3 separate regions of the Homo sapiens genome follow, and all the other regions are linked to region 2. Evidence: fine-mapped expression QTL. A gene starts in region 2. Each other region holds a variant in brackets. All regions are shown on one strand. Distances are between the middles of the regions.

Region 1 (10,536 bases), 50 kb before region 2:
ATTCCAACAGGACTCTCCCTACCTCTCAGTCTCCCCAAGACATGGCCACCCCAACTCTGCAGCTCTGGTTGAGATGTCCTCCTGAAAGCCAGACTGCTGGACCTGACTTCCCGCTGGCCATGACTTCCTACTGGCCATGACTTCCCGCTGGCCATCTCCCCCAGGTGTCCGCAGGCCCCACAAAGTCAACTTTGAATTGTGGCCATTACCCCTCCCTAATCCACTTGCTTCTCCAAGTCCCAGTGAGATCGTCATAAGACAAATATCTGCCTGTGGCTCTTACCTGCTCAAAACCCTTCCACGGCATCCTATTGCCTACAAGATTAAGTCCAAGATGTTGAGCATCTTTTTGTATGTTAATTTGCCATCTGTTTATCTTCTTTGGGGAAGTGTTTGTTCAAATCTTTTGCTCATTTCTTATTGGGTTGTTTTTTTTTTTAATCATTGAGTTTTAAGACTCCTTTATAAATATTCTGGATACAAGTTCTTTATCAGATATATGATTTGCAAATGTTTTCTCCCAGTTTGTTGTTCGTCCCTTCATTCTCTCAGCAATTAAAAGAGCATACTTAAAAAAAATTTGATGGAGTCCAGTTGATCAATTTATTGCTTCATGAATCATGCTTTTATCATTTCGTTCTTTTATGGTGTTGTGGCTAAGAAATTTTTGCCTGACCCAAGGTTATGAAGGTTGTTCTCTTATATGTTTTATCCTAGAAGTTTTATCATTTTGGTTTTACCCTTTTATTTTTTACTTATATTTTTATGCCTGAGTTAGAGTTGGGTTTTTGGTATTGCAAAGAAGGGAGACCCTGCTAATATTGTAATCTATTTGAAAGGTGAAGCTTAAAGACCTTCAATGGCTCCTCATTGCTCTTGGGATAAAAGTCCTAAACTCCCTAGCATGGCTCAAAGGGCCTGCATGAACTTCCTGGCCTGATTCCCAACCCTTTTCCTTTCTGGCCCCTCATGGTGCCCTGTGCTCTGGATGTACACACTGAATGGCAATTCCTTGAGCTCAATGCCCAGGGCAATTCTTTCTTGGAGCTTTAGGGCAGGCTGGATCAGACAGCCAGGCTGAAGCAAGACTCCATTCCCCCTCTCCTCCAGATATGAAGTTGTTTTTTATGTGAGACTACACCCAGGACCCCACTTGAGCATCTTCCATTTATTTCTCTTTCCCCCATCAAAGCTGACCCATCCTGAGCCCTGTGCCCTTAGGTTCAGGGTCCCAGTGCACTTCCTCCCAGTCTTTATTTGGATGTTCTTTTCTGTTTTCCACAGCTGAGATTATATCCTGCATATAATTTGCACCCTGGCTTCTCAGTTGCTGCTCCACTTTTTATATTATAAGAATTTTCGAGCTTTTTGTAAAAATACAATTAGTGGATGAATAATTGTCCATTTGAGTGGATATAAAATGATTTGCTTAACATTTCCTCTATAGTTGGTTTTTTGGGTTGCTTCCATTTTTTATTAGAAACAAGGGCATACTACATCTCTTTGTACATAAATCTTTGTCGATTTGAGATTATTTCCTTCTGATGGAGCACCATAAGTGTAATTACTGGGTCAAAGGCTGTGGTAATTTACATTCCCATCAGCAGTATTGTCTGTTTCATCACACCCTAGCCAGCATGGGGTATTCTCATTAAAATTTTTTTCTTCACTCTGTGATGGGCAAAATGTGTTATCTCACTGTTGTTTTAATTTACTTTTTAAAAAATAATTAGATATTGGAAAATGGGTTCAACCTATGAGCCATAAAAAATTAATCTTCTGTTAATTGAGTGTTCATCCCTTCACACTTACCCAGCAGTGATTTGAATTTTTAAAACTCAATTTGTATGGATTCTTAAACACCAAGGATATTAACCCTCTGCGTGACATCCTCGGAAGTTGTTTTCAATTTCCACACAGTTAAATCTAAAATTTTTAATCTATTTTCTTCTTATTTTCTTTGTGATTGCTTCCCTTGCTTTTAAGCTTAGAAGGCTCACTGAGAGTTTGGGGTGAATATTCACTTCTACTTTATTCAAGTGTGATTTTTAATTTAAATCTTTAATCCATCTGAACTTGATGCTGATGTATGACATGAAGTGAAGAATGAGTGGATTTGCTTTTCCAAATAGCTTAGCGATCGTTCCAACACCATTTATTAACTAAGCCCTTCTTTCTTCACTGCTTCATGGTGTCCCTTCTTAGCTCTGTGGAGTATGGTAATATTTTTCTGTTATACTGTGTATGGGTTTAATATCCTCCACCCTCATTCTTCGCCCCACTGTCCAAGCTTCCTGGGTGCATGGTTTTTGGGGTGCTGACATTACATAGAGTCCCTGGCTTGGCCTTTGAGCTCCTCTGTGGGCTTTTGTGAATCTGTAGCACAAACCACAATTGTGTGGACTATTGTCCACAGGGGAGTCTACAGGAATGAAAGCCATAGCTTTTCAGGACAAGAGCTGGGACTTGAGAAAGGAAGCATTCTAGATTCTACAAAGCTTGGAGGATTTGGAGTTAAAGCTAAAGGAAGAGGCAAAGAGCTTATGCATAGACAATAGATGGAAAAGACAGTTCACGATGATGGTGGAGCCTGAGCCCCTTGAAGGGGGTAAGAGTTCAACCTGTGGGCAGAAGGAGAGAAATCCAAGGAAATTCAAGCAGAATATTAGTACTGGCTGGATCCCCCAGAAAAGGCTCATCTTCCAGTCCCTGAACTGAATCCCAAGGGGGAATATGATGGGGTCCCAGACAAGTCTGGGGGATTCCAGAGCAGAAGCCTTAAGTCTAACCTGGTGGTTACATCAAGGGGAGCAAAGGCAGCAGAATTCCCTGAGCAGCCTTGTGGAGCCGAGCTGGCACTGGAGGGTGTCTGGGCTTGGTTGGGGCCAAGAGTGAGCTTGCCGACCCAGGGAAGCTAGGGTTTGCCAAATTCGGGGAGACAGAGCCTGTGGTTACCAGGAAGTGAGGAGGGACCAGAAGAGGCAAGATCCTGCCAGGCAGAGCAGAGCAGTCTATGTGTCCTGTTGACACTGTGGCATTCACGCCCATCACACACAAGTCGCCTTTCCCTGAGTCCTGGAGCTTGGACCTGCACCCTGCCACTGTCATCTCATTGATGTAGTTTTGGGTTATATTTTGCTAGCTGGGAAGGCTGGTCAAACCTCCCACTCCAGACAGCCTTCTGGTGAATGCCTTCTCCTCATGACCTGCAAACTCCGCTTTCATCTTTCATAACTTTGACTTCTGATTGTGGACTAGATTCCCCCCGAAGTCAAGTTCTGGACATGAACCTAGTTGGAGCTCACTCTGGGATGTAGAGGGGCTGGGACGCTGGAGTCAGAGGCAAGAGGCACAGAGGTTGAGTCCGCTACCTGCCACTAGCGTGCCCTGAGGCCTTCCACAGCTAGTGCCCTGTGCAGAGTCTCATTTTCCTGCTTTGCTTCTCCGTGGAATCCCTGTCAGCCTCGTGGGGTTTGTGAGGATCATATAAAACTTAGCTCTGACTCAACTGTGTAAACTGTGAAGTCCTGTGCCCACGCTGGGGTGGGTGATCCTGGTTCTCCCTCCTGAGCAGACCTCCTGTCCCATACCCCATCATCCCTGCATGACAAGGATGCCAACCACACAACCTTCTCCTCCAACTCTCCTGGCCCCTCCTTCACTCTGCCGTGCAAAATTAAGCAAACACACGGAATTTGTTTGTTTCGATAATCACAAACTCTTTTTGGCTAAAAATTTTTGACCTCCCATTTCAGACATTTTATTTCAAATCAGAAAATATTTGTTCAACAGCCCCAGTTGGCTGCTCCAGACTGGGGAGGATTCCAAAACGAATGAGACAGGGTCCTGGCCATGGAGTGGGATGAAATTCCTGCCAAAGGGAGACACAGTTAAAACACAAAGGTCATATACAAGTTCCCAGACAGAAAGTGGGACGCAGATTACTCAGTAAAAGGCCAATCGAGCGCTGTCCCAGGAGGTTGGATGTGTGTTACCGCCAGGGTGGATCCCTCTCGTCCATGTGGCCTCATTTCCTTGGAGGCCTCATTTAGCTAATTGCCTCTGCTCCACAGTAACTCATATCCCACAGGTACCTTCCTTTGGGAAAATTAATATGCAAATGTTGCCCTTTTATTAAAACCAAAATGAAGCAAAAAATTCTGCCCCCCTTTGTTGACTCTCCTCTCTTGACAGATAGACCCTGTATCAACCTTGCTCCTGACCCACCCCTCCGCATCCCCGAAAAACTGACAAACGGCCCTGAAGGCCAAGTCCAGGGTCACCAATCAACTTTTACCTCCCCTGAGCTCCCTGCCACTGCCACTGTGTCCTTTTGGAAACTCTCTTCCATGGGCCCCAGGGAGTCCCCCCTGCTGCTTTCCTCTCTGGTCCTTCCTTCTTGGTGTCCTCTTCCCTTACCCAGCCACCTGAACCCGAGTGCTCGCCTGGGCTCAGCCTCTGTCATCTGCTCATTCCTCTGCACTCTGTTCCTTAATCTCACCCATCTCTGAGCTGCTTCAACACCGCCTCCACCCCGGCTTGGACCCAAAGCCTCTGCAATGTCCAATTCCAGCCCAAGTTCTCCTATGGACTCCAGAAGCCACAAGTCCCAAAGGCACCTCATGCTCAACTGACTCAACAGACAACTCTTCTCATCCAAATATGGTGCTTCACCAGAGTCCCACATCTCATGGAGAGATGCCACCAGCCAGTAGACCCAGGAGACGCCTGGCATCTTCCTCCACAGCTCACTGGCTCTCACCACCTACCTCCACAGTCCAGCCTCAAGCCTGGAGACTTCATCTCCCAGTGGCTCCTGGGCCCTTCCAGTTCTCTTCAGCTCCACCCCCTCCTGCACTCCTGCCATCGCTTCCTCGCTAGAAGCCAGAGTGATTCCTTCTTTCCTTCCTTCCCTCCTTCCTTCCTTCGTTCCTTCCTTCTTTCCTTCATTCCTTCCTTTCATTCTTTCGTTTTCCTTCCTTCCTTTCATTCTTTCATTTTCCTTCCTTCCTTCCTTCCTTCCTTCCTTCCTTCCTTCCTTCCTTCCTTCCTTCCTTCTTTCCTTCCTTCCTTCCTTCCTTCCTTCCCTCCCTCCCTCCCTCTTTCCTTCTTTCCTTCTTTCCTTCCTCTTTCTGACAGAGTCTCACTCTGTCATCCAGGCTGGAGAGCAATGGCATGGTCTCAGCTCACTGCGTTCTCCATCTCCCAGGTTCAAGTGATTCTCCTGCCTCAGCCTCCTGAGTAGCTGGGGTTAACAGGCATGTGCCACCACGCCCAGCTAATTTTTTTTTTTTTGGTATTTTTTTTAGTAGAGATGGGGTTTTGCCTTGTTGGCGAGGCTGGTCTCGAACTCCTGACCTCAGGTGATCCACCCACCTCAGTGTCCCAAAGTGCTGGGATTACAGGCATGAGCCACGGTGCCCAGCCCAGAGTGATACTTTCAACATGCAAATTGGAACAAGTCATTGCCATGCTTAAATGTCTCCAAAGACTCCCCAGCATTCTTGGAATAAAGCCCCAAACCTTTCCAGCTGGCTGGCTCTTCCATTCAGATTTTTTACCCTGCTTCCCCTCATCCACTGTGTTCCAGCCTTACTGGCTTTCTTCCCCTCCCAGAACACACTCTGCCCCTCCCACTGCTGGGCCTTTGTCTGGGCTGTTTCCTCTGCCTGGAATGCTCTTTCTGATTCCTCCTAGCCTGGTTGATACCCACTCATCTTTCAGATCCCTTCTGGGGGTCTCCTCACTGTTTTCAGCACCACACACTTGTCCTTCATGAGTATCAGTGTTGCTAATTATCCTTTTATTCATGTAATTAATTCACATCTGTTTCCCCTTTTAGGGGAAGCAACAGGAGCCCCTTTTAGACAATAAGCTCCACATGGGCAGGGATGTGTGTCTGTCTTTTTCACATGGTCTCATCAACAACTAGCCAGCACACAAGAGGTGCTCAAAAAATATGTGTGGAATTGAGTTGAAAACTTTCTCTTGACTCCACATCTCACTTTCGAGCTCCCAGACAATCTTTCTCTAAACTTTTCTAATTATCAAAACTTAATTATCTAAACTTCTGTAAAAGGGCTGTCTTCACTGACTATCTATCATCCTCAGGCACTGCAGTCGGGGTTCTGCTCCATCACACCCCTGAAACTGCTCTTGCTGAAGGCTCCGATAACCTCCTAATTACCAACTTGAGTGGGTGTTTTTCCAACCCTGTCTTATTGGAATTCTCTGCAGGGTTTGATATTGTTGATCACTCTCGCCTTCTCGAAATGCTGGGCTCTCTTGGTTTCCATGACAACACCCTCTCCTTGTTTTTAACCCATCTCTATGACGACTTTTCCTTCCCAGTCTCATTAATCAGAACCTCTGACTCAACCACCCTTAAAATGTTAGGGTCCTGAACATTTGATATTGTAAAGATGTCAATTCTCTCAAAATTAATTTAGAAATTCAATGTCTTCCCATCAAAATCCCACTAGGATGTTTTAATGGAACTTAATAAGCTGATTCTAAAAGTCATATGGTACAGGAGATGGGCAAGAATAGCCAAGATAATTTTGAGAAAGAAAAACAAGTGGTGGAACACAGTAGGGGAAAAAGGACTGGATTTGCCCTACTAGGTAGCATACGACAAAGCAACAAAAGGATTAAACAGTGTGGCAATGGCACAGGGATAGACACACTGACCTACAGAACTGAGGAGCTCAGGATTTGACCTGTGTCCAGAGGGAATTTGCCATATACTAGAAAGGGCATTTCAAATGATGGACATTGGTCACCAGGAGCCTGAAGCTCCCTCCCTGTTCTTTAGCTCTGAGGTTTTTTGAAGAAGGCCCACCCAGGCAGCCTCCTCATGCAGAACCATTTTCTTTCCTTTCCTGCCCAACCCCTCCAAGCCCTCACCCCTTCAAAAATTGCCTGA[T/C]GCAGGTACCGTTTCCTTAAGACCTAGCTCTTATTTTTTTCTTCTTTTTCTATTGTAAAAAGAAATACATGGATGGATGAGTATATTGTATTCATTATATTGGTTAGATGGTGAGTATATTGTATTCATTATGTTATTCTTGTTCTCTTCTGCACTTTTGAAATATATTATCATATTTCTCTAACAGTCTAAGCAAAATAAATAAGGGAAAAATGAAATATATTATCATAAAAACAGCGATATCCAAATATGGCAGAAAATTTGGAGAGAAGTAAGTCATGAAGAACTAAAACATCTTGACAAGAATCCCAACATCCATTGTCAAGTTCTGTAAAAATGCGCCGGAAAAGCACATCTCTTCTTAGCCTTTTTAATGCATTTATTTACAATAGATGCTTTCATTGTATGTAATTTTGCACCATCCTTTTCCATTGATTATATGCTAAACATCTCCCCATATTAGTCAACTTCCTTTGTAATTATTATGTTTAATGGCTGCCTAATAATCCAGTTAATGAATGGAACATAATTTGGTTAACTGTTCTCCTGGAGCTGAAGATTTTGATAACTTCCTTTTTTCTTTTTTGCTATGACACCTAAAGCCACAGTGCACATCTTTCTGCAGAAATCTTTGGGCATTGCTTTAGAGCACTTCTTGGGATGAGCTTCCTGCAAATGGAATTACTGAGTCAAACAGTACGAACCTTTTTGAGGCTCTTCACACATCTTAAACAAATTGCCTTGTAGAAAGATTTTGCCACTTCACAGTCCTGCCAGCTGTGCAAGAGAGGGCCCATGCCACCGGGGCTGAATGAGCTCTGTGAGCTCTTGCTTTGTAAAGTACTCATTCGATGGGCCAAAAGTGGTATCCCTGCATTCAAATTTACATTTATTTTATTATGAGTAAGTTCAACATTTTCAACTGAATTTGACTTTTGAACTTCATCTTTCATAAATGGGCTCTTACAGCCTTTTATCACCCCAATGTTTCATTATGAAAATTCTTACTGCCTCTGTGAATGTTTTATTTATGAGAATTTCCAACACACAGAAGCTTTACATTTCCTATAGTCAATTATATTTATATTTTCCAGCACAGTTCTCTGTATTGCTGTAAATGCTACAATGGCCTTCCTCGACCATAGTTTGGATAATGAATCATTTCCAGTTTTTTCTAGTTATTACTATGCTTTCTTTTTTTTTTTTTTTTTTTTGCATTTAAATCATCTGACATGGCCGGACATGGTGGCTCATGCCCATAATCCCAGCACTTTGGGAGGCTGAGGTAGGCGGATCACCTGAAGTCAGGAGTTCAAGACCAGCCGGGCCAACATGGCGAAACCCTGTCTCTACTAAAAATACAAAAAAATTAGCCGGGTATGGTGGCGGGTGCTTGTAATCCCAGCTACTTGGGAGGCTGAGGCAGGAGAACCACTTGAACCCAGGAGGCAGGGGTTACAGTGAGCCAAGATCATGCCATTGCACTCCAGCCTGGGCAACAAGAGTGAAGCTCTGTCTAAAAAAAAAAAAAAAAAAAAAATCACCTGACACTTACTGAAAAGATGACATCAATTAAAAAGTAAAGAAGACAAAAAAAAAATTGAAAAAAATTTAAATAAATCACAGGACATTGATGTTGGTGGTTGGTATAAAGAGAGATAAATAATTGCTTTTCGTTTCTGAAATAGATAAAATAATTTTCCAGCCTCACTAAGTGACAAATCACTTCATTCCCCCTGCCTGCCCCCATTCATTTGCAGTGCCTCTGCTCTCATAAGTCATAGAATTAGACATTCTAGGGATCTGCATCTGGGCTTTCTATTCTGTTTCATTGAGATGTCTTTCTTTCTGTTACAAAATAATGGTTATTTTGTTTTGTTTTATTCTGCAATGTCTGTTAGGGTTAGAACCCTTGAAATCTCTGTTTCATATCAGATCACTTCCCCAAGCATCTAACTCCCACACCCAATTTCCCTTTTGGTAATCTAACCTTGAATTTCCCATAGCATGACTTTTTTACACAATACATGTTTTTCTAGCTACCTCCTCTCCCTGGAGATCACATGGTATTGTTGTGCTCCATAGGGGCAGGCCAGTGGTGCACTCAATCCTGAAATCTTGGAGGCACGGTCAGGAGATATGGCTTTGAGCCACATCCCTGCCAGTCATGCACTGTGTTGGGCCCTCCCCACGCTACTTTGTCTTGGGACATCTCAGCTTCCTTTTCTGTGAAATGGGGTTGTCAAGACCACGTGAGATAGAGAATGTCAATACAGCCTTATTCTTCACTCAACAAATGTGTGCTAGGTGCCAGGGATAAAAGAGCAGCCAGGGTAGAAATTGTCTCTGAAGAAACAGCCTTCAAGGAGCTTACAGTCTATTAGGGGAGAGTCCTCTAAAACAGAGGAAAAGGCAGTTGCCAAAGAAGTGATTGCAAAGGCTGTGGAGGAAGCAAACAGAATGTGAGGGAGAGCATGGGGTAGGAGCCCCACTTTAGATGGGTGGTTGGGGAGGGTCTCTCTTGGGAAACATTTAAGCTGAGCCCAAAAGTCTGAGAAGAGGGTGGTGGGAAAGTGGTTTCCAGGTATGAGGAGCAATGGGAGCCAAAGCTCTAAGAGAGGAATGAGCTTGGTGCACTGGAGGACTAGAAGAATTTGCTTATGGGTCGGGTGCGGTGGCTCATGCCTGTAATCCCAGCACTTTGGGAGGCTGAGGCGGCCGGATCACCTGAGGTCAGGAGTTCGAGACCAGTCTGACCAACACGGTCAAACCCCATCTCTACTAAAAATACAAAAATTAGCTGGGTGTGGTGGCACACGCCCGTAATTCCAGCTACTCAGGAGGCTGAGGCAGGAGAATCGCTTGAACCTGGGAGGCAGAAGTTTCAGTGAGCCAAGATCGCAGTACTGCATGCCAGCCTGGGCGACAGAGCAAGACTCCGTCTCAAAAACAAAACAAAACAAAACAAAACAAAACAAAAAAAGGCTACTCTGGCTGCTCTGTGGGGGTTGGATTATTGGGAAGAAAGTTAGCAAGTACCTGCAGTGACCAAGCAAGAGATGACGGCTTGGACTGAGCCATTGGTCATGATGATGGAGTTGGTTAGGAGGTAAGATCAACTGACCTTTCCATGAGATGTTGCAAGAGAAGAAGGCAGAGATTCTAGGGGACCGCTAAGTGTCTCCCAAAATAGGAGACATCAGTCAAGAACAAATTTGCAGAAGAAAGATTAGGAATTTGAATTAAAGAGCATAATGAAGTGAAAAAATAACAAACCAAGAATTTCATTTGGGATATGTTGTTGATGTCTGAGATGGTTGGCCATCAGGTTCTGGAGCTCAGACGAGAGATCAGGGCTGGATCTGGAAGAAGATGTAGAGAGGAAGATGGGTGTGTTGGACTGGAGCTTAAAGGAGCCCAGTGTGGACTATCAGTTTTGGGAATCAGCCTCTAGGAGAGAGGCAAAGCTTCAAGGATGCATGAAGTTGAGGGAAAAGGTGCACAGTGAGAGGGAAGGCTGGAGTCTGAGCCCTGGGCAGCACCAGCATTGGACAGGGGGAGGGGAGCCTGAGAAAGAGGGGAAGACAGGGAAAGAGAGTCCCAGAAGCCCA
Region 2 (10,536 bases):
TCTGAACCCCATATCTTGGCAGGCCTCAAAACTGGGAGTTTCTGTGGTTTTCCACACTAAACCCACAGAATCATGAACATACCAACATGTGTTCTCCATGAAGGCTGACCCTCCCTTCGGAGCTTTTGAGGGGTATGCCCATAGCCCCACTGCCCTTCTTGATGCTCTAACCTCAGCCCAAGTGACAAGGTAGCAGATTTCAGGGAGGTAGGCCAAAGCAGCATGGTAAGAGCTGGCTGCTCTGGACACAGCACCTCTTGTGCCCCCACTTAGAGGACAAGAGGCTCCTGGTAGCCCCAGAGCTTTCCATATCATCTTGGCAAAGCCCTTTTCCTCCATCCGTCCATCAGCAGGGCTGTGAGTGTGGCAAGGTGAGATGACAGATTTCCAGGCAAGGGCTGCCCTGGTGGCCTGCACCTGCACGTGTGGGCTTCAATGTGCAATGTCCACTCCCCATTTGCATCCTCCACCCACAAAACTTCATGTTCTGGCAGCAAACTTAACCCACCAGAGAAGACAGTGCATTCACTTTCCATCCAGTGCAATGCCATGCAATGCCTAGATGGTCCAAACACACCTTGTTTATAAAATTTTTTCCACAAACTATACCATTAAACATTTTATTCTGATAGAGAGCAATGCGAAGAATTGAAAATGACTAGTGTTTTACTGCACAGCCCTTAGTCACAGTGCTGAACGTCCCCTTTGCCTAAACCATCATTGCTCCCAGAAGACTTTGCCCCCACAAGGCCAAGGACAGAGCAGATCGGTTGGGAAGGAATTGGGAATAGCTCTGTGGGACTCCAGCAACAGGTGAGAGACCCTTGAGACTAATACTCCAGGATGTTAGTTTCTTAGCCTAACGAACTGAAGTTAAGTCCAGAGGTGTTTAGGTACCATGACTTTTAGGGGTGCAGGGTGCTATGTGACACTGTTACCTTTATCTGTGGAATATTTGAATTGTCACTGAAGGAAGGGATGTCTGCTGTCAGGGAAGGGCAGGGGCAAGTTCCTTGAGCTTGGGCAACGGATTACTGTTGGATCGGGGAGCAGGTTTGCTGTGAGCCATTTACTAGATATCTATTTTGAAATGTGTATCTCCTCAGGAGCCAACACCCCAAAGGGAGATTCTGAATTTGCAGTTAACTTCCCCCCCCCACCGCCCCCACCCCCCCTCAGAGATTTAAACGTGTGCACTCATGCACATACACAAAACACTAGTCAAACAACAATCTCTTTTCCCCCCGGTAACCTCTGACTTCCTCTATATGCCCCAGAGACACGTTGTCACCATCTTCCCTGGGAGTGATCCTGTTTATCCTCCCCTCCCCGACTTGCCCTCCCACAGGGCCCATGCATGCCCCAGCAGGATCCAGATTCCTGAGCATTTCCAGAGCAGGAAGTCAGAGAGGCAGGCAACGCGTGGTTCTTGGTATATCGCACAGGGACAGGCTTGAAATGGAATGCATGTGTTTCAAAGATAGGAGAACAACAACAAAAAAAGACAGTCTAACCCAGATTCCTCTTTGAAACAACATATTACAGATTAAAGGTTAAACTGTTTTTGGCAGCAACTCTAACAAGACTAATTTCAGATATGGAATTGACCTGGTCACTGGAAACCGACCAGGCTTCCCGTGATCAAATCTTTTAACAGATTTGCTTGACATTAATTAGTCTCTGATTTAAAACAAACAAGCAAACAAGATCTAACACTTGGCATTAGCACTTAAGCTGGAACTTTTTTTTGGTCCCAGCTTTGGTGTTGCCGTCCAGAAGGCTGACGGGATGACTGGACCATGTCAGGCAGGGCAGAGAAGCCGTCCCCAACACACCAGTTCCCTGAAAGGGATAGACGATCCAAACCTATAAACAGAAAGGCTGTTTCTTTCCGAGGACAGACCCCAGTCTCCCAACATTCGGCGATGAAATGGGACACGGAGGCCTGGAAGGAAACTAAAGGAGATTTGGAAAGGGGAAGGAAAAAACAACTGTCCCCCATCCCCCATGCTTCCTTTCCAGGCCATTAGTGCGCCAGGCATTCCGTTCCTTCAGCTGCCCTTGAGGGCCACTCCCCACGTCTATAGAAGGAAAGGGAAGGGATGTCCACCCTTGATGTAAAGTTGGAGGGAGTAAGAAGCGCCCGCGACTCTTAGCAGAGCGTCAGCCTATCACCCCAGACACCGAAGCGGAGCCTCAGGAGACCCTCTCTCCCCTCACCCCCACGTCCCCCCACCTCCCCCCCAAAAAAGCAACTAAAGCAACGCAACTAAACTGATGGGGACAGAATGACAGGCCTCTCACAAGCTGGGCACCCTGCCGTGGAACCCGGGGCTGCAGAGATGGTGGTCGCGCTCCCAGCCCCGTGCCCCCGGCTCTGCCTGTCTCATCCTGCAAGGGCGCTGACCTTGGACAAGGCCAGAGCCAGCACCCAGGAGTACTATGACCCACCTCCGGGCTGGGAAGGGACCCCCCAAGGCCCAGGCTAGGTCCAATCACGGCAATCACCTGAAGCCGGACAGGGGCGCCCTGCCTTCCCGGGGTATGCGGAAGGAAAACCCCAGTGACGGGGACCCGGCGACGCCTAAGGTGACCCAGAAGGGACAATATGGCGGCGCGGCCGCATGGAGGGCCTCTCATCCCGCCCCAAGCAGGTTGACGCCACGGTACCTGCAAGCCCTGCCATGGCGCCGCCGCCACTGTCGCCGTCTGCCGCAGCCTGCCTCCACCTCAGCTCGCCACCGACGCCGCAGGAAGCCGGGGAGACGCCCCCTTAGTCTTCTAGTCGAGCCGGCCGAGGACCCATCCTGGGATCGGGCTGTCTACCGCAAACGCCTGATCACAAGGTCCGAAGTGGGGGCTCATCCTCGCCCCATTTCCCGTAAATATCAGCCACAGACCACCTTTGAGGACTTTGTATGCACTTTTACAAAACTCTGGGAGCCCCGAGATCTTCAAGCCCGAATAATTTTTATCAGGCGCAGTGTGGACAGCCCCGAAGCGCGGCCGGGTCCCCTCATGCATATGCAGCAGATTGTGATCCTTACTCCGTGAGCGCTGGGCGGGCCGGGTTGTGTTCATGTTGGTGAACCCGCTTCGTTCTTGCCCGCGTGGATGGTCCGTGGACTCCGGGAAAACCTTCTCGTGGCTCAAAGTCCACCCCCTCCCTAGCGTTTCATCATGCAGCCAAGGCTCAGGAGCTGAAAGGTCCGGGCTCAGAACTTGGGACTGCCTTGGGTCAGGCCTCGGCTCCCCCACTTGCCCCGTACCTTGGGCCAGCGAGCCCCTCGCCCACCCCGACCCGGCTTCTGTTGAAATGCCCACCTTAGGGCTTTTATGAGGCTTGAATGAGTCCGTGTAGTCATTTATTAGCTAATTAAGCATATTCCTTGGGCGCTTACTGTACCCAAGCGCAGTGCTAAGGGCAGGTAGAGTCGGTAACCTGGGTCTGTCCCTGACCTCAAGGCACTGCCAGTCTAATGGCGGGTAGGCGGGGAGACAGTCATATAATCACTGTATATTAGTGACTTTAATCAATACATAATTACACATCATGGGAAGTGCTGTGAGAAGAAGTAGAGAGTGTTAGGAGAAATTAATGGAGTACTAATGTAGGGAAAGGGTGGAACCTCCTTGGGAAGATGGCATTTAGGTTGAGAAACAAAGGACGATTAGGGTAAGAGTGAGAGGGGAAATGTTCTAGGCAGAAAGAACATTTGTCCCAGATCTGGAGCTGGGAAGCGGCAGAGTTGGGGTGAGGTGAGCACAGAAGAAAACAGGTCAGCTACATACTGAATTTGGCTTTTCTCTTGAGAGTCAGGGAAGCCATTTTCATCAGGAAGAGGATAGCAAATTAGGATTTCTGAAAGGCCACCCAGGCCGCATGGCTTGGAAAGCACTCAGGAGTGGGTGTAGGCAGACCAGTTAGGAGGTGGTTGCAGCTTTCCAGACAAAAGCCAATGCTGACTCAGACAGGGTGGTAGCTTGGGGAGGTGAAGGGAAGGGTGGAAGATTGGACTTGGGTGGATGTGGAGGCATTGGCAATAACTCCTCGCTAGGTTTTAGCCTTGAGTAAATGAAAGGGTAAAAGATTCCTTGACCAAGACAATAAAGCCTGAAAGAGGAACGGACTGAGGGGGAAGATCAAGTTCGGCTTTGAGAAGTTAAGTTTGAAATGTCGGGGCAACATGCAGGCAGAGAGGGTGAGTAGGCAGGTTTATGTGACACAGAAGCTGCGAACGGAGGCTGGGGCAGGAGATACATATTTGGGGGCCATCAATACAAAGGTCATGGTGCTGGGTGAGAACGCAAGTGAAAGAAGGTGGAGAGAAAAGAAGAGGAGGATCCGGGAAAGGAGACTAAGAAGCAGTGGCCAGTGGGGTAGAAAGAGGACCAAGTGAGTGTGGGTCCTAGAGAGGAGGTTTCAGGAAGGAGGGAGTGCTCAGTGGGGCTGATGCTGTTGAGAACAGAAATGGAGCCGTTGGGGTTTGGGAATAAAGAAGGTTGGTGGACTGTATCTTTTATGTTGCAAGTTAAACACACAACTACATCAAGTGGCTTAAAAAAATAAGTAGCCTGCCACTCAGTGGCTAGGCAGTGTCATCAAGGACTGAGGTTCATTTTATCTTCTGTCCTTGTGCTGGTTTATGCTCATGGCCACAAGATGGCTATCCAGTTCCTGAGGTCACATCCAAAGCAAGGAGATGTCCATTTCTCCTCCAGCTGAGACTCAAAACAGGCCTGAATGTGGCCTCCCACCATCCTGCTGCTTACAGGCTAAAGGATCAATGCATCCATGGCAGCCACACCCAGTATCCAACACTGAATGACAAGAGGAGTCTTGTAGTGGAAGCTCTTGTTTAGAAAAAGAGAGAGCTGGCTTTGCAGATGCCGCTGGGATCCCCATACTATCAGCCATGGTCAGCCCCACCTTGTTCTTTGACATCACTGTCGATGACGCGCCCTTAGGCCCCTACTCCTTCGAGCTGTTTGCAGACAAGATTCCAAAGACAGCAGAAAACTTTCGTGCTGTGAGCACTGGAGAGAAAGGATTTGGTTAAAAGGTTTCCTGCTTTCACAGAATTATTCCAGGATTTATATGTCAGGGTGGTGACTTCACATGCCATAATGGCACTGGTGGCAAGTCCATCTGTGGGGAGAAATCTGATGATGAGAACTTCATCCTAAAGCATACAGGTCCTGGCATCTTGTCCGTGGTAAATGCTGGACCCAACACAAACGGTTCCCAGTTTGTCATCTGCACTGCCAAGACTGAGTGGTTGGATGGCAAGCATGTAGTCTTTGGCAAGGTGAAAGAAGAAAGAAGGCATGAAGATCGTGGAGGCCATGGAGCGCTTTGGGTCCAGGAATGGCAAGACCAGCAAGAAGATCACCATTGCTGACTGTAGACAACTCCAATAAGTTTGACTTGTGTTTTATCTTCACCACCAGACCATTCCTTCTGTAGCTCAGGAGAGCACCCTTCCACCCCATTTGCTCCCAGTATCCTAGAATCTTTGTGCTCTCGCTGCAGTTCCCTTTGGGTTTCATGTTTTCCTTGTTCCCTTCCATGCCCAGGTGGATTGCAGAGTTTATGATTATGAAATAAAAACTAACAAAAAAAGAAAAAGAGAGCTGAATGTTGAGAGGCTGTGGAGCAACAAATTCTTGCAGTGCTGACGGCAGAGCAAATTGGTACAGCCACTTTGGAAAACCAGCATCTACAAAATCTAAACATACACCTATGCTGTGATCTAGAATTTCCACTCCTAGGTATGTACCCGAGAGAAATGAGTGCCTATGTTTACATGGAGACTTGTGCAAGAATGTTCATAGCAGACTTATTCATAGCTCAAATTGGAAATAGTTCAATGTCCATCACTGGAGAATGGATAAATTGTGGCATGTTCATGCAATGGAATACTGTGTTTTACATATAAAAGAACAAACTACTGTTACATGTAATAGCACCAGTTAATCTCACATATAGTATGTGGACTAAAAGAAGCCAGATACAAAACAGTACATACCATATGAATCCATTCATATAAAGCTCAACTAATCTATAGGGTTAGAAATCAAAATGGTAGTTACCTGGGTCAGGTCAGGAGTAGGGATGGGAAAGGAGCAAGAGGAGCTTTTCTGGGATGCTGGAAGGATTATATCTTCTTCTGGCTGGTGATTATGTAAGTGAAAATTCATCAAGTAAAAATTCACCATAAGACTAGGGGACTTCGGGAGGCAGAGGCTGCAGTGAGCCAAGATCGTGCCACTGCTCTCCAGTCTGGGCGACAGAATGAGACCCTGTTTCGGGGGAAAAAGAAAGAAAGAAAGAAAAAAGACTGGGGGCTTTATATACTTTACGTATGTTATACCTCAAGAAAAATAGAAGAAAGGGGCTGGGTGTGGTGGCTCACGCCTGTAATCCCAACACTTTGGGAGGCCAAGGCAGGTGGATCATGAGATCGGGAATTTGAGACCAGCCTGGCCAACATGGTGAAACCCTGTCTCTACTAAAAATATAAAAATTAGCTGGGTGTGGTGGCACGCGCCTGTAATCCCAGCTACCCGGGAGGCTGAGGCAGGAGAATCACTTGAACCTGGGAGGTGGAGGTTGCAGTGAGCCAAGATGGCACCACTGCACTCCAGCCTGGGCGACAGAGCGAGATTCCATCTCAAAAACAGAAACAAGAAAAATGGAAGAAAGGAAGGGGTCCTGCCATCCCATGGAATGTGACATGCTGCTAAACAAGGATCAGGTCTGTTTTGCGGGATACCACCTTCCAGTAACTTCAGGCTGAGTGTTAGCATGTACAAGGCCTCAGTGGCCAGCCCTTTCTCCCTGGGGCCCAGAAAACTGGGGAAGCTGAGGCAGGGCTTCTAATGCACATGGAACTCGCTCCTGCTCAGCTGGACCCTTTCCCCTCTGTCCTCAAGATTGCTCCACCTTCCCAGCTCAGTTCCAGGCTGTGGAAACACCATCAACACCGGCTTTGACTTGAGAGACCTGGAAGGTCATTCTGCCCTAAAATTTTGCTGAGCCAAACTCAACTTCCTACCAAGGCTTCCCCAACTTGCTCCCACCCACCAGACACCTGGAGTCACCCATGACTCCTGCTCCCTCTTGCTCCATACTCCTCAACTCTTGCCCATTGCTCCTGAATTTCCTTTAGGCCTTTTCTGTCCCCACTGCCAAAGTTTGGTCCAGGCCACCATCCCTTCTCCCCTGAACCCTGCAGCAACCTCCTCACTGGTCTCTCTGCTGCCTGTCTCACCCAGAACCTTCATCTTCCACCCAGGATGATTTTTTCTTTTTTTTTTTTGAGACGGAGTCTTACTTTGTAGCCCAGGCTGGAGTGCAGTGGTGCGATCTCAGCTCACTGTGACCTCTGCCTCCCAGGTTCAAACGATCCTCCCACCTCAGCTTCCCCAAGTAGCTGGGAGTTCAGGTGCACACCACCAAGCCCAGCTAATTTTTGTATTTTTAGTAGAGGTGGGTTTCACCATGTTGGACGGGCTGGTCTCAAACTCCTGACCTCAGGTGATCAGCCTGCCTGGCCTCCCAAAGTGCTGGGATTACAGGAATGAGCCACCATGCCTGGCCCAGGATGATCTTTGTAAAATGACCTTGTCACTCTTCTTGAGGTGGTGTCCCCTGTCCCCTGTCCTCATCTGTCAAGATCTTCCCCAGTCTTTAAAGGCCCAGATCAAATGCCACCTCCTCCATGAAGCCTTTGCATTCATTCATCAAATATTTTTTGGTTACCTAAAATGTGCCAGGCACTGTGCTAGGCATGGAAGATAGAAAAGAGAATAAGAGCTGGGCACAGTGGCTCGTGCTTGTAATCCCAACACTTTGGGAGGCCGAGGCAGGTGAATCACTTGAGCTCAGGAGTTTGAGACCAGCCTGGGTGACATGGTGAAACCTTGTCTCTACAAAAAATAAAAATAAAAAAATTAGCTGGGCGTGGTGGTGCGCATCTGTGGTCCTAGCTACTTGGGAGGCTGAAGTGGGAGGATTGCTTGAGTCCGGGAAGTTGAGGCTGCAAGTGAGTCATGATCATGGCACTGCACTCTGGGTGCAGTGCCTGGTGACAATGCCTGGGTGACAGAGGGAGACCCTATCTCAAAAAAAAAAAAAAGAATATATATATGTTTTCTAAAAAGACACTACAGACAGTCTGGAGAGATGGGCAATTATGCAATGCCAATGCATGTGCATTTTCTGTCTGTTAACCCCCATGAGACCGTGAGCTCTTGGAGGGCAGGGTTCATTTTGGGTCTGGTAGGAAGGAAGAGGCAGTAACTGTTGAATGAATAAGTGAATGATTGAAAGGCTAGACCGAGCTCCTCCCTTTGTCATGTATCCTCCAAGTCTCTGATTCAGCTGGTAACCAGGTCTATGGAATTCAGTTGGGACTGGATGGCAAATTTGGGGCTAAATGATAAAGAATCAGGAAATGGTTATGTTATGAATAGAACAATGTTTTGTGAAATCACAATACTTACTTTCCTATACATCAGTCTGCTTGACAATTACTTTAAAAAAAATCAACATTATCTCCTTACCAATACTTATATATTCAGGAAATTCTACCTGTAATGGAACAATAGTTAAATGTTAAAGCACTAAAGAAGCTATGTGATATCAAAAGATTTTAAAAGGGATAAAAAACATTATTACCAAGGTGACCAGAGAATGGAGTAAGCTCCAGGATGGCGCAGACTGCAGCCAGAATGCAAGGGTTCATTTCCATTCTACATTTACTGGCTGTATGTCATTGAGCAAGTTAATAAACCTCTCTGTCCCTCAGTTTCTCCATCTGTGAAATGGGGACACATTTGACTCTACCTCATGTGATCATTTGTGGGAATTCAATGAGTTTGTGTTATAAAATGCTTAGAATAACACTGGTTGGCCGGGTGCAGTGGCTCACACCTGTAATCCCAGCACTTTGGGAGGCCAGAGCAGGTGGATTACCTAAGGTCAGGAGTTCGAGACCAGCCTGGCCAATATGGTGAAACCCCGTCTCTACTAAAAATACAAAAATTAGCTGGGTGTGGTGATGCACGCCTGTAATCCCAGCTACTAGGGAGGCTGAGGCAGGAGAATCACTTGAATCCAGGAGGCAGAGGTTGCAGTGAGCAGAGATCACGCCATTGCATTCCAGCCTGGGCAACAAGAACAAAACTCCATCTCAAAAAATAAAAGACTAGCACGGGTTACATAGTTAGTACCCTTAATTACCTATTGTTACAAATATGTAAAATTATCCTGGGGACTGGAGGCACTGTGGGAGCCCTGGCAGGGAGGGCCTCTCCCCACCATGGCTTTTAAGGTGTCAGGACAACTGGGTTTAAATCCCTGACCTACTTTCCTGACCTTGGGAAATGTTCCCAACTCTAAGGCCCTTTTGTTCCACACTTCTCAGGGCTTTCTCAGATGGGAAGCAAGTATGCTATTTTAGCCAGGTCTGTGGTGACACCTAATGGTAAAATGGGGAACTGCCTGATCTTACTAAACTTCCATCAACCTATTAATAGTACAAGCAATAACTATATATCACGCTCTTACCATGTGCCAGAAACTGAAAGCTGTGTGAACTGTCTTAGTTCACAGCTTAGGCTGACTGATTTAACCAATCAGCAAGTCCTGACAGCCCTGCCTCCAAAATAAGTCACAACCTAGCCCATCTTCTTATATCACCACTGCCTCCATGCTTGACCAAGCCACCACCACCCAGACACCAGCCTCCACCTCCCCATCACCTCTTCCCACTTCTTCTCTTGCTCTCCAGTCCATCTAAATCCTAAAGAAATGGGAGGGTCAGTGGGAGGTTTTAAAGAGGAAAGTGATCTGATCTGACTTGCTTTTTTTTTGAGACTGAGTCTCGCTCTCGTTGCCCAGGCTGGAGTGCAATGGTGCAATCTCGGCTCACTGCAACCTCCACCTCCCGGGTTCAAGCGATTCTACTGCCTCAACCTCATGAATAGCTGGGATTATAGGTGCCTGCCACCATGCCCAGCTAATTTTTTGTATTTTTTTAGTAGAGACGGGGTTTCCCCATGTTGGCCAGAATTCAGGCTGGTCTCAAACTCCTGACCTCAGGTGATCCACCCACCTCGGCCTCCCAAAGTGCTGGGATTACAGACGTGAGCCACCGTTCCTGGCCACGACTTCCATTTTTAAAAGATCACTGTAGCTGATGTAAATGGATTGGAGAGCGAGAGAGGAAGTGGGGAGGTGGTGGGGAGGTGGAGGCAGGTCTGGGTGGTGGTAGCCTGGTTAAGCATGAAGGCAGTGGTGATACAGGAAAGTAGGCTAGTTTGTGACTTTCTTTGGAGGCAGGGCTGTCAGGACTTGCTGATGGGTTAAATTGTTCAGTAGGTAGTTAGTCAGACATGGTCAGGGCAGGAGAGCTCTTCCCCCTGCCTCCCCACCCACCAGGATTCTCAGGCGACCATCAGGTGATGGTCAGGTGGTTGTTAAAACTGTCTCTCTAAAATAATAATTGGTTGCAGCTGGCGTCAGAAAAG
Region 3 (10,536 bases), 37 kb before region 2:
CCCAAGATAGCCTTCTCTCCACCCTACTGCCCCATCCTGGTTCCAGCCACCTCCCATCTCTCATCTTCTTACTGTGATGGCCTCACAACTTTCTTTTCTTCCTCCTTGCCCATCCACTTACCACACCGAAGAGCAGACTTCTTAAGATGTAAATAGGATCATGTCATTTTCTTTCATATCACCAGCCTTCAGTGACCTTCCATGGGCCTTAGCACCAACTCTGGTCTCTTTCTCAAGGCCTGCAAGACTCACCTGCTCTGCCCTGTCTGTCTCTTCCATCCCCCTTGGGTGCTCCAACTCACTGTCCTCCAGCCATAAGCAAATTCTTTTTTTTTTTTTTTTTTTTTTTGAGACTGAGTTCACTCTGTCACCCAGGCTGGAGTGCAGTGGCGCGATCTTGGCTCACTGCAACCTCTGCCTCCCAGGTTCAAGCGATTCTCCTGCCTCAGCCTCCCAAGTAGCTGGGACTACAGGCGCCCACCACCACACCCGGCTAATTTTTTGTATTTTTAGTAAAGAGGGGGTTTCACCATGTTAGCCAGGGTGGTCTCGATCTCCTGACCTCATTATCTGCCCGTTTCTTTCATTTCTGATCATTGGCATGGTGGACACAATGCCTGGAGTGACTACTGCCATCCTGTGACTGTGGGGACAGGAGCCCATATGCTGAGCTTGGGAGAACTGAAGGATGGACAGAACATGGGTCCTTAATGACATTACATTTGTCTCCCTTGGGACTTCTCATTATATGTGACAATAAATGTCTCACTGTTTAAACATTTTTGAGTTAGGTTTTCTGCCACTTGTGTCAAAATCACCTTTGCTGATAAGTGCCTCAGCCCTAATGGCCTTCTGGCTCCTGGAACATGCCACCCTCCTTCCATGGAGCTTCACCCCTGCTGTTTCTTCATGTGTCCTTCTCATCCTCATTAACCTCCATGCCCCTGGTTGAATGTTAGTTCTCTGATATAGCAGGGTTCCTCCATGCCACCTATCACAGTTTACAATTATGGACTTCTTTACTTTTTTTTTTAATAATTTTTTTTGAGACAGAGTCTTGCTCTGTCACCTAGGCTAGAGTGCAGTAGCTCTCTACATCATAGCTACAATCATAGCTCACTACAGCCTCATCTCCCAGGCTCAAGTGATCCTCCCATCTCAGCCTCCCAAGTAGCTGGGACTACAGGTGCGTGCCACCACACTCGGCTAATTTTTTTGATTTTTAGTAGAGACGACATCTCACTATGCTGCCCAGACTGGTCTGGAACTCCTAGCCTCAAGTGATCCTTCCACTTCGGCCTCCCAAAGTGCTGGGATTACAGGCGTGAGCCATGGTGCCCGGTCTCTTTACTGGCTTGATTAACATCTGGCTCCCCCACTGGTGTGGCAGCTCTACACAGGCAAGGCCTAGGGCTGTTTTTGCTCACCATTGTGTACCCTCCCACTGTGAAGGCCAGAGAGCTTAGACAAGTTCACTTACTCAGCCGGGGACCTGGTAGGGGAGAGAGACAGTGCATTCCAAAGGATTAAAGTGAAGCTAATTTAATGAAAGGACCATTCACAGAGTGTAGCAGGCTCCAGGGTTGATCAAGCACCCAGGGATGAGCAACAGCTGGAAGCTATCACACTTCTAGGTTTGAAGAGATGAGAGAAGGATATGGGCTTTCGGAACCTGGAGAGAAAGCTGCTGCTTTCAGAAAGAGACCCCACCTGTGGCCATACGAAAAGGAATGCAGACACTGCCAACCCACAGCCAAAGGAAGGTGGCCAGAGAAGCTCACTCTCCTCCCTCTCTCCAGCGTCTCCTTGTTTCCTCCATTGGTCACACTCAACTACAGATGCTTCTTGACTTATGATGGGGCTACATCCAAATTAACCCACTGTAAGTCAAAAATATCATGTCATTAAATGCTTTTATTTTGTTTTATTTTGAGACAGAGTCTCACATTATCGCCCAGGCTGGAGTGCAATGGAGTGATCTTGGCTCAATGCAACCTCCATCTCCCGGGTTCAAGCGATTCTAGTGCCTCAATCTCCCAAGTAGCTGAGCCTACAGGCATGCGCCACCACACCCACCTAATTTTTGTATTTTCAGTAGAGATGGGGTTTCTCCGTGTTGGCCAGGCTGGTCTTGAATTTCTGGCCTCCAGTGATCCGCCTGCCTCGGCCTCCCAAAGTGCTGGGATTACTTACAGTCTTGAGCCACTGTGCCAGGCCCATTAAATGCTTTAATACCCCCAGTACACCCATTATAAAGTTGAAAACTTGTAAGTTGAACCATCATAAGTCAGGGACCCTCTATAGAAGCCAGAAGGCATGGAGTCTGGGTAGTATTAAGGTTGGCCTCCCAGGCACAGAACAGGATGGAGGATAGAGTATGGCTCTTGGAGGGGACAGCAAAGGCTATCCGGACCAGTCACCAAATGACCTCCTAGCTACTCATTTCAATGCACCCTTTTCCTTTCTTAACCACCCTACAGAATTTGATAATCAATTTTAACTTTTTCAGGATCAGAAAGTGCACCACAAAGGTCTTTTCCATGCTTTGCTCTCTTCCCTTGAGACATCTCCAATCAGACCCACTTGTTTCCTTTCAGCCGGGCTCAGAGGATAGATCCCAGCTCACTTACAAGTCTTTCTTCTTTTCATCCTCATCCTCTTTCAAGACCAGGAAATTCTAGGGTTTCTCCTGTTTTCAAAAACCCTCCCTTGATCGCTCACATTTTTCTTGCTACCATTCAACTCCTTCCCTAGTCATCCAACCTTCTCTAAGGAAGGTTCTGCCACTCCTCCACCTATTCAGTCCGTTGACCCTGGGGAAGCTAGCTTTTACCCCTTTGCCCCCAAAACAGTTCCTGCCAAGGTTCATAGGAGCCCCCGATTGCTGGATTCAAAGGACTTTCTGCTTCTTATTTTTCTGAGATTCGGGGCATCGAGCTGTGGTGATTACTTTCTCCCTGAAACTCTTCCCTATCTTGGTTGCTATGGCAACCTCCTCTCCTAGTTATTTGTCTCATTGCTCAGGTCCTTCCTTTTCCTCTCTCCTTTGTCACCCACCCACACCTCCGTCAGCCCCTCACATGTCTCCGGGACTCATGATGCTATGAGCTCTCTCCCATCTTCCCTCTACACTCTCCACCTCCCATCTTCCCTCTACACTCTCTGCCTGATGGTCTTGCTCATTCCTGGAGTCCCATTAACTTCTGTCCCCAGGTTGGTCCCTCCAGTCAGATTTCTTCCTGAGTCCCAGCTCTGGCATCCAGCTGTCTGCTAACCTCCTCCTGGCTGTACCCCCGGCCCCTCATCTCTACTTCTCTGAGACTGAGCCCATTCCCCCCACCCAAACTGGCTACCATGCTGTGTTCCCCATCTCAAGCACCTCCTCACCATCTGCCAAGGAACCCAAAGACACA[C/A]GAGAATCACCCTTGGTTCTACCCTCTCTCTCACCCCAACAGCCAACAATCCTTATGCATTTCTGACTTTATTTTCTAAATTGGTCTCCCTGCCTAGAGACTATCTTCTTCCAAATATAGTCTTCACACTGACCATCTCAGTGGTCTTCCCAAATAACAAATCTGAATGCATCACTCTAGTGTAAAAACTTTCAACAGTGCCCAGTGACTGCAGGACAGTGTCCAAACTCCTTGACATGGGGGCATCCAAGGCTCTGCAGGGTCTGGTCTCTGTCCACTTCATCTTGCTCTTCCCATCCCCTCCTTCTTTTGTCATAGTCCAGGAACACCAAATACCCTCCAGCTCACTCCTGCTGCTCCTCATTCCCAAGGCTATGCTTGTGCTGTTCCCTCTGTTTAAAAGGTCTTTCCAGTTCCTTCTAGCTTGCTCATTCCTGCTCATCTCTAAGGAGATAAGTCACCCTAAGACCAATGGTCACCTCTTCTGGAAAGTTCTGTGCATATTTATGTTTCGTTACTGCACTTACCATACTGTACTATGATGGTCCATTTAAATGCTGTGTAGTAGGATCATATTTTATATATTATTTGATGTGCTTCCCCACCCCCCACCACACTTCCTTGCCCATCACCATGTTGGTGCACAACAAACTACACCAAACATTAGTGGCTTACAAACACAATTTATTGGCCAGGTGCAGTGGCTCACACCTGTAATCCCAGCACTTCGGGAGGCCGAGGCAGGCAAATTACTTGAGCTCAGGAGTTTGAGACCAGGCTGGACAATATGGGGAAGCCCCATCTCTATCAAAAATACAAAAATTAGCCAAGTGTAGTGGTGCACGCCTATAGTTGCAGCCACTTGGGAGGCTGAAGTGGGAGGATTGCCTGAGCTTAGGAGGTCCGACGCTGCATTGAGCCATGATTGTGCCACTGTACTCCGGCTAGATGACACAGAAAGACCCTGTCTCAAAAACAACAACAACAAAAACAAAAACAGTTTATTATTCCTCATGGTTCCGGGGTTGATAGGGCTCAGCAAGGTGGTTCTTGCTTAAGTGTTTCATGCAGCTGCAGTCAGATGGCAGCTGGGGCTGGAGTCATCTGCAGGCTCATTCACATAGTTGACAGTCAGCTGGGGGCTTGCTGAGACCGTTGACTGGAGTGACCACATGTGGATTTACCACAGGACCTGCACTTCTCATAGCATGGCAGCTGGCTTGTAGGAGGGAGTGTTCCAAGGCCAAGCATTGCAAGAGGCCTGGCAGAGGCCATAAGGCTTCCTGCGACCTAGTCTTACAAATCCCAGAATGTGCCTTCTGCTATATTCTATTGGCCAAGAAAGTCACTAAGGCCAGCCTAGATTCATGGGGAGGGAATTACACTTCTCTTCCTGATACAAGGAGTATGATATATATCGCAGGAAGGCAAGTATTGGTGGTGGCCATCTTTGGAGACTAGCTACCAAGGTCACTTTTTCCTGATTCAGTCAGAGCTTTGCAGGATTTGGGTTGTTGCAGCATGAATGCAGTGAGAAAGATGGTCAGTAGTTTCAAAGAGTCTCTTGAAACTTACAGCAGACAGGATGCTTTGTTGCAGTAGCCGGGCTTTTGTAAAGAGGAAAGAGCTTGAGGGACTGAGCACTTGAAATTGATGCCAGAATGGTAAACAGGGAAGAATACAGAAGCTGTTTTTCTGCCTAAAAGGAAATAAAAGTTTGACCAGCTAGTGGGAATAAAGGAATCACAAAGAGATGTAGCTCATAGTAGATACTAGAGCTCCCAGAGTAAATTTGAGGTATCCCAGAGCAGAAGGGACTGTTGCCTGGCTCCTCAGGTGTTGCCTGAGAGAACACAAGCTCCTGGCATGGGCTGGAGAGAGGCTGAGGACCCCTGGTGGGAGAAGGTGGCTGGGAGGTGTCCTCCAGGGTCCTGTTTGTCTTTGTAACACGGTGGTGATGGTGAGGGTGTAGAGAAGAGGGTGAGTGTAGCCGGTGGACTTGGAGGTGCCTCATGGTCAGGACAAAGATTTAGTAGGGATTCTGTGGCTCAGTGGATGGCAGTGGATAGTTGCTGGCAGACCTGAATCACTTGTATGCCCCTGGTGCCAGGTCAGAATAGAAGCTCCCAGAACACTGACTACCCACAAGGAGAAGGAGCAGTGGGAAGCAGAGGAGCTGGAAGTGGACCAAGAATCTACTTAAGATAGTCTTTTGAAATGTCCAGATGTGGCTGGGTTTACCTTCAACTAAGTTTGTGCTACTGAGCAGAATGGAGTGGCAGTGGTGTTGGGAAGAGTTAACCTGAGTAATGAAGCAACATTTTGGAGAGGCTCTGTTTGTAGGTTTCTGGGCTAGCACCTGGGGCCACCTTCAACCTTTCATTCTGTCTCATCTCTCCCGTGCACTTGGCACCATGCCCCCTATTTCTACCTCCAAAACTTCTCTTGCCTCCGCCTTCTCTCCATCTGCACTGTTGCTTAGCTCAGACCTGCGTTATTTCTCACCTGGACAACTGTGGTGCCTCTTAGGTACTTCCCTACCTCCAGGCTGTTGGGGCCTGATCAAACCCTTTTCTGCTGGCAGCCAGAGGGATGACCTCTGTTCTTTTTCTAGAACTGCGCCAATCCTTCTTGGAAATCATTCTGCACCCCAACCTATTTGCTTTGAAATTCACCTTCTCATTTATTGCACAACCCACTTTAATGGCCATCATTGATTTGCCAGAGGTGAACCCCAACTCAACTGGGCCAATGGAAGCTTTTGTCTAGATTTCTGGACTTGGGAACAGAGAGAGCTCATAACATGTATGGAGCACTTAGTGTCCATCCCCGAGGTAAGTACTTGATGGACATCATCTCCTTTGACCCTCACAGCATTAAGCTGGTGCTGTTGTTATCCCCATTTCCTATGTGAGGACACTGAAGACAGAGAAATTAGACAAAACAATGAGTAAGCAAGTAGCCCTGATGCTTAACCAAGTTCCTGCGCTCCTACCTCGATCTCTTTGTGGTCATGAACCTGAGAGGTGTGAAACATTGGCAGTCACGAACGCCAGTGTGTGGAAGAGGCATCCCTGAGAGAGGGAGCTGGCAGGCAAAGAGACGTGGAGACATGGAGATGGGAGAGGGGCAGGCTGCCAGTTAAGTCCCTGGCCCCGGGGGACCGGAAGGTCAACTGAACCTAGCTTGGCCTGTGGTTTGCGTATAGAAGCCAATTAAGTTCCTTCTGTGCCTGAGCTGGTTTCAGTTGAGCTTCTTCCACTGGCAAAGAAACTTAACTAAATGAAAGTGATCACACCTGTCTCCCTGCTTAAGAACAGCCACGGCCAGGCATGGTGGCTCACGCCTGTGATCCCAGCACTTTGAGAGGCCAAGATGGGCAGATCACCTGAGGTCAGGGGTTCGAGACCATCCTGGCCAACATGGTGAAATCCTGTCTGTACTAAAAATATAAAAATTAACTGGGCGTGGTGGCACACGCCTGTAATCCCATCTACTCGGGAGGCTGAGGCAGGAGAATCGCTGACCTGGGAGGCAGACATTGCAGTGAGCCGAGATCATGCCACTGCACTCCAGCCTGGGCAACAGAGTGAGACTCCGTCCATTAAAAAGCAAAACAAAAGAAAAAACGGCCACTGGTTCCTCATTACCCTTGGATAGAAGCTCACTTCTTGTCATGACACAGCAGCACTGCAGGTGCAGCCAGCCTGATCTGTCACTGATCTCCCTCCTGCCACACCCATGCCCCCAACCCTGTGTGTCTCAAATCGGCTGGACTCCCTGCAGTTCCCTTAAGAACCCAGGAAGGTTGCTGGCCCTCCAGGATCAGGTGAGGTGAGATCCACCCACAGCTTGCTCCTCATCCCCAGCTCTAACGCCCCTTGAATCCATCTAGGATTTCACCTGGGCAGTCTCACCAGCTGTGGGCCTTTCCTTTTCTGGAGTCAAAACTTAGCTTCTCTTATGTGTCAGCTCCTAAGAACATTTGACAACATCTTAGAAAACTGCAAAGTATCCAAATGTACCCAGAGGCAACCACTGTTCACATCTTGACACACTTGTTATCAGAATTGTTTGTTTTTAGGGACAGTGCCTGGTTCTGCTGACCAGGCTGGAATGCAGTGGCTATTCACAGGCACAATCACAGCGCACTGCAGCCTTGAGCTCCTGGGCTCAAGTGATCCTCCTGCCTCAGCCTCCCAGGTAGGTGGGAATACAGGTGCATGATGTGCCTGGCTTATCAGAATTTTTTTTTTTAATCCAAGAGAATAGAAGGGCTTTTGATGAAGAGCAGCAAGTTCGGGATGGACCCTCTCCCAACCCCAAACTCTTACCCGAGAGTGTGTGATCTCTGCTCCTGGAGGTTGTCTCCTAGCTGTAAGCTCTCAGCTTGTATTAGGAAGAATGCTTTCACCAGAACGTAATATATCACCTAAAAGTGGCTAAGCAACAAGAACATTTATTTCAAGTAATGAAAAGTTCAAAAGTCAGTGGTTCCAGGTATCTGAGATCTGAGTGAACAGAGAACCATGAGTCTCCTGGCCTTCCCCTCCTGGTCACAAGATAGATAGCTGTCAGGGCTCCAAGCACTATGTTTTCACTCAACAGCACCTAGGCAGAAAGAAAGGGGGCAGCCAAGAAACTTCTCCAAGTGCATCCCTCTTTTTCTTTTCTTTTTTCGAGACACGGTCTCACTCTGCCACCCAGGCTGGAGTAGAATGGCATGGTAGTAGCTCACTGAAGCCTCAACCTCCCAAGCTAAAGCAATCTCCTCACCTCAGCCTCTTGAGCAGCTGGGACCACAGGTGCATGCCACCACGCCTGGTTAACTTTTGTATTTTTTGTAGAGATGGGGCTTCACAATGTTGCCCAGGCTAGTCTCGAACTCCTAGGCTCAAGCAGTCTGCCCGCCTCAACCTCCCAAAGTGCTGGGACTACAAGGCGACAGCCACTGTGCCTGGCCCCACATGCATCTCTTTAATTAGGGAGGAAAGTGTTTCCCTGAAACTGCCTGAAGATATCCCCTTACAAGTCCCAAGTCAAAACTGGGTCATGGGAGCCCTCTAGACAGCATCTGCTACACCCCATTTCTAGTTCATAAGATCCACTGATGTCCCAGTGGATTAGGCATTGGGTCACTTGGAAACTACTCCCCTCTATCCCTACCTCTCCTAACACAGTCTTTAAGTACCTCTGTTGGTTATCTTTTTAAGAAACCTACTTGCCCCTTCATTCCTTATTCTACCACATGTCCACAGAAGCTCTTGCCTCCCCACTATTGTCCCTGTCAACCTTCCTACCCTCTTCCCTTCACTGCTACCTCCCAACTTTTATATCTTTACTTTCACATTGTGACAGATGATAATGTTGACATTCTATTCTGCAACCATAATAAAATTCAGGTCAATACAAAAGTTGAATATTAATGAAAACTAGAAAGATAACATTTTCATTATTTAAGTATACCATATATTTCCTCTGGGTATCTATATATGTAAGTTTTTAGAAACGTCTAGAAAAGTCCACATTGAGCCCATTACTGTGGTTACCTCTGGAGAGGAGGAAGGGAATAGGGTGGCAGTGGGTGGCCAAAAGGGACTCCAGCTTCATCTGCAATGTTCTCTTTTTTAAAAAAGGGGAACGTATTCATGTTTTGCTTGTGTCATTCGACTTCAATTTTTTAAAAAATTACTATTTATTTTCAGCCAATAACGTGGGCTCCGTGTGTTTGGATGTGCTTGCATGTTTGTGCCCAGGGAGGAGGAATATTTACTTTGTGTGTGCCTGTGAATGAAGTAGAGTGATTAGTAAGCAGATGAAAAAGAAATGTAGCAAGCAAAAGCAAAACAAAAAAGGGGGCTGGAGAAAACTAATTCACAACAATAATAAAAAGTATAGGAATAAACCCATTAGGAAATGGGCAAGTTCTTTATGGGGAGAACAACAGTGCATGAGTGAAGGACATACAAGATAATAAGAATAAACGTAGAGCTCTACTGTATTCATGAATTCAAAGGCTCGGTATTGTATTGATGTCAATTTCTCCAACTTGACAAGCTGGCTTTACAATTCATGTGGAGGAGTTAGTGTGCGGTACTAGTTAGCTAAGAGAGCTGAGAAGGAAGCACAACGAAACATGGCATTTGACTTCACAGATACCAAAAGGTGGGACAGCAAAGAAAACAGTCTTGTACTGAAAGGAATAAATGGATTGTTGGGAAAAACAGGGGCTTCAGACACACCTGACTCAGAATATCAGGGAGTTTTACTTCAGGTCAGAGGGGAAAGGAAGAACTAGTCAACCCCTCATACTGCAATAATTGGCTGCCCGTTTGGAGAAAGGTTAGATCATATATCAATATGATAATCAAAATATATTCCAGATGCATAAAGAACCAAATAAAAACAAAATTATAAAATTATTAGAAAAGAAGAAATAATATATTTAAATCTTAGGAGTAGGGAAGGACTAAACATGGTATCTGTATAAAAAAGGATCAAAGGAAAAGATTGATAAATTGGATTATGTCAAAACTAATAACTTCTAACAAAAGATTCTACAAAGAGTTAAAGGCAATGACAAGCTGGAAGAAAATATTTGTCACATATCTACAAAAGATCAATATCCAGATTATATTACAAAACTCCACAAGCCAGTGGGATAAAGACAACCTAATGCTTAAAATGAGAAAAAATAACAGGCAATTCAGAAAAGAGAAAATACAAATGCTCAATATACATATGAAAATCTCACAAGCAAACAGGAAAATACAAATTTTAAAAAGGATTCAATTTTTCACCCATGAGATTGGCAAATATTTAAAACAACCGCCTATGGGTGTGGGGATTACAGCCCTCTCATACCCTCTGGCTGGAAGCTTAAATGGTACAGAAATCATGGAGGACAGTGGTAGTATCTGCTAAAACTAAAACTGTGGACATATTAAGACCCAACATTCCATTTCCCAATCACTCCCAGAGATATCCCACCACAAAGGAACATGCAATGTGGTTTCTGCAGCACTGCTCATGATGGAGGAAAGAAAAAGAAGCAATTAAATGTCCATGGAGCTTACAGAAGATAAAATGTGGTACATTCATGGGAATGAATACAACATAGCTA

Which allele goes with the higher level. Alleles are on the strand shown, and positions count from the first base shown. SD is a standard deviation of normalised expression in the study named. Not every link is listed here.
For the expression in esophagus mucosa of the gene that starts at base 2,754 in region 2, A is the low allele of the variant in region 3 and C is the other (small effect, 0.32 SD a copy in GTEx).

Evidence for each region. PIP is the estimated chance that this variant, and not a neighbour inherited with it, causes the effect.
Region 1: its variant is the best candidate, but not a certain one, in a credible set for the expression of BLCAP in whole blood (TOPMed, PIP 0.83).
Region 3: its variant is the best candidate, but not a certain one, in a credible set for the expression of BLCAP in esophagus mucosa (GTEx, PIP 0.52).

What each region holds. Positions count from the first base shown.
Region 1 is chr20:37,475,546-37,486,081 of GRCh38, forward strand. No RefSeq gene overlaps it. Among named protein-coding and RNA genes, the nearest start is that of NNAT, 40 kb to the right of the region's middle. The variant T/C (reference allele first, on the strand shown) is at 6,926.
Region 2 is chr20:37,525,123-37,535,658 of GRCh38, forward strand. BLCAP (BLCAP apoptosis inducing factor) reads right to left here and starts at 2,754. Exons shown (of 2, transcript NM_006698.4): 1 at 2,671-2,754. It also overlaps the pseudogene PPIAP3. RefSeq lists enhancers at 1,122-1,840, 2,558-3,275, 2,597-2,646, 2,737-3,046.
Region 3 is chr20:37,487,838-37,498,373 of GRCh38, forward strand. No RefSeq gene overlaps it. Among named protein-coding and RNA genes, the nearest start is that of NNAT, 28 kb to the right of the region's middle. The variant C/A (reference allele first, on the strand shown) is at 3,414.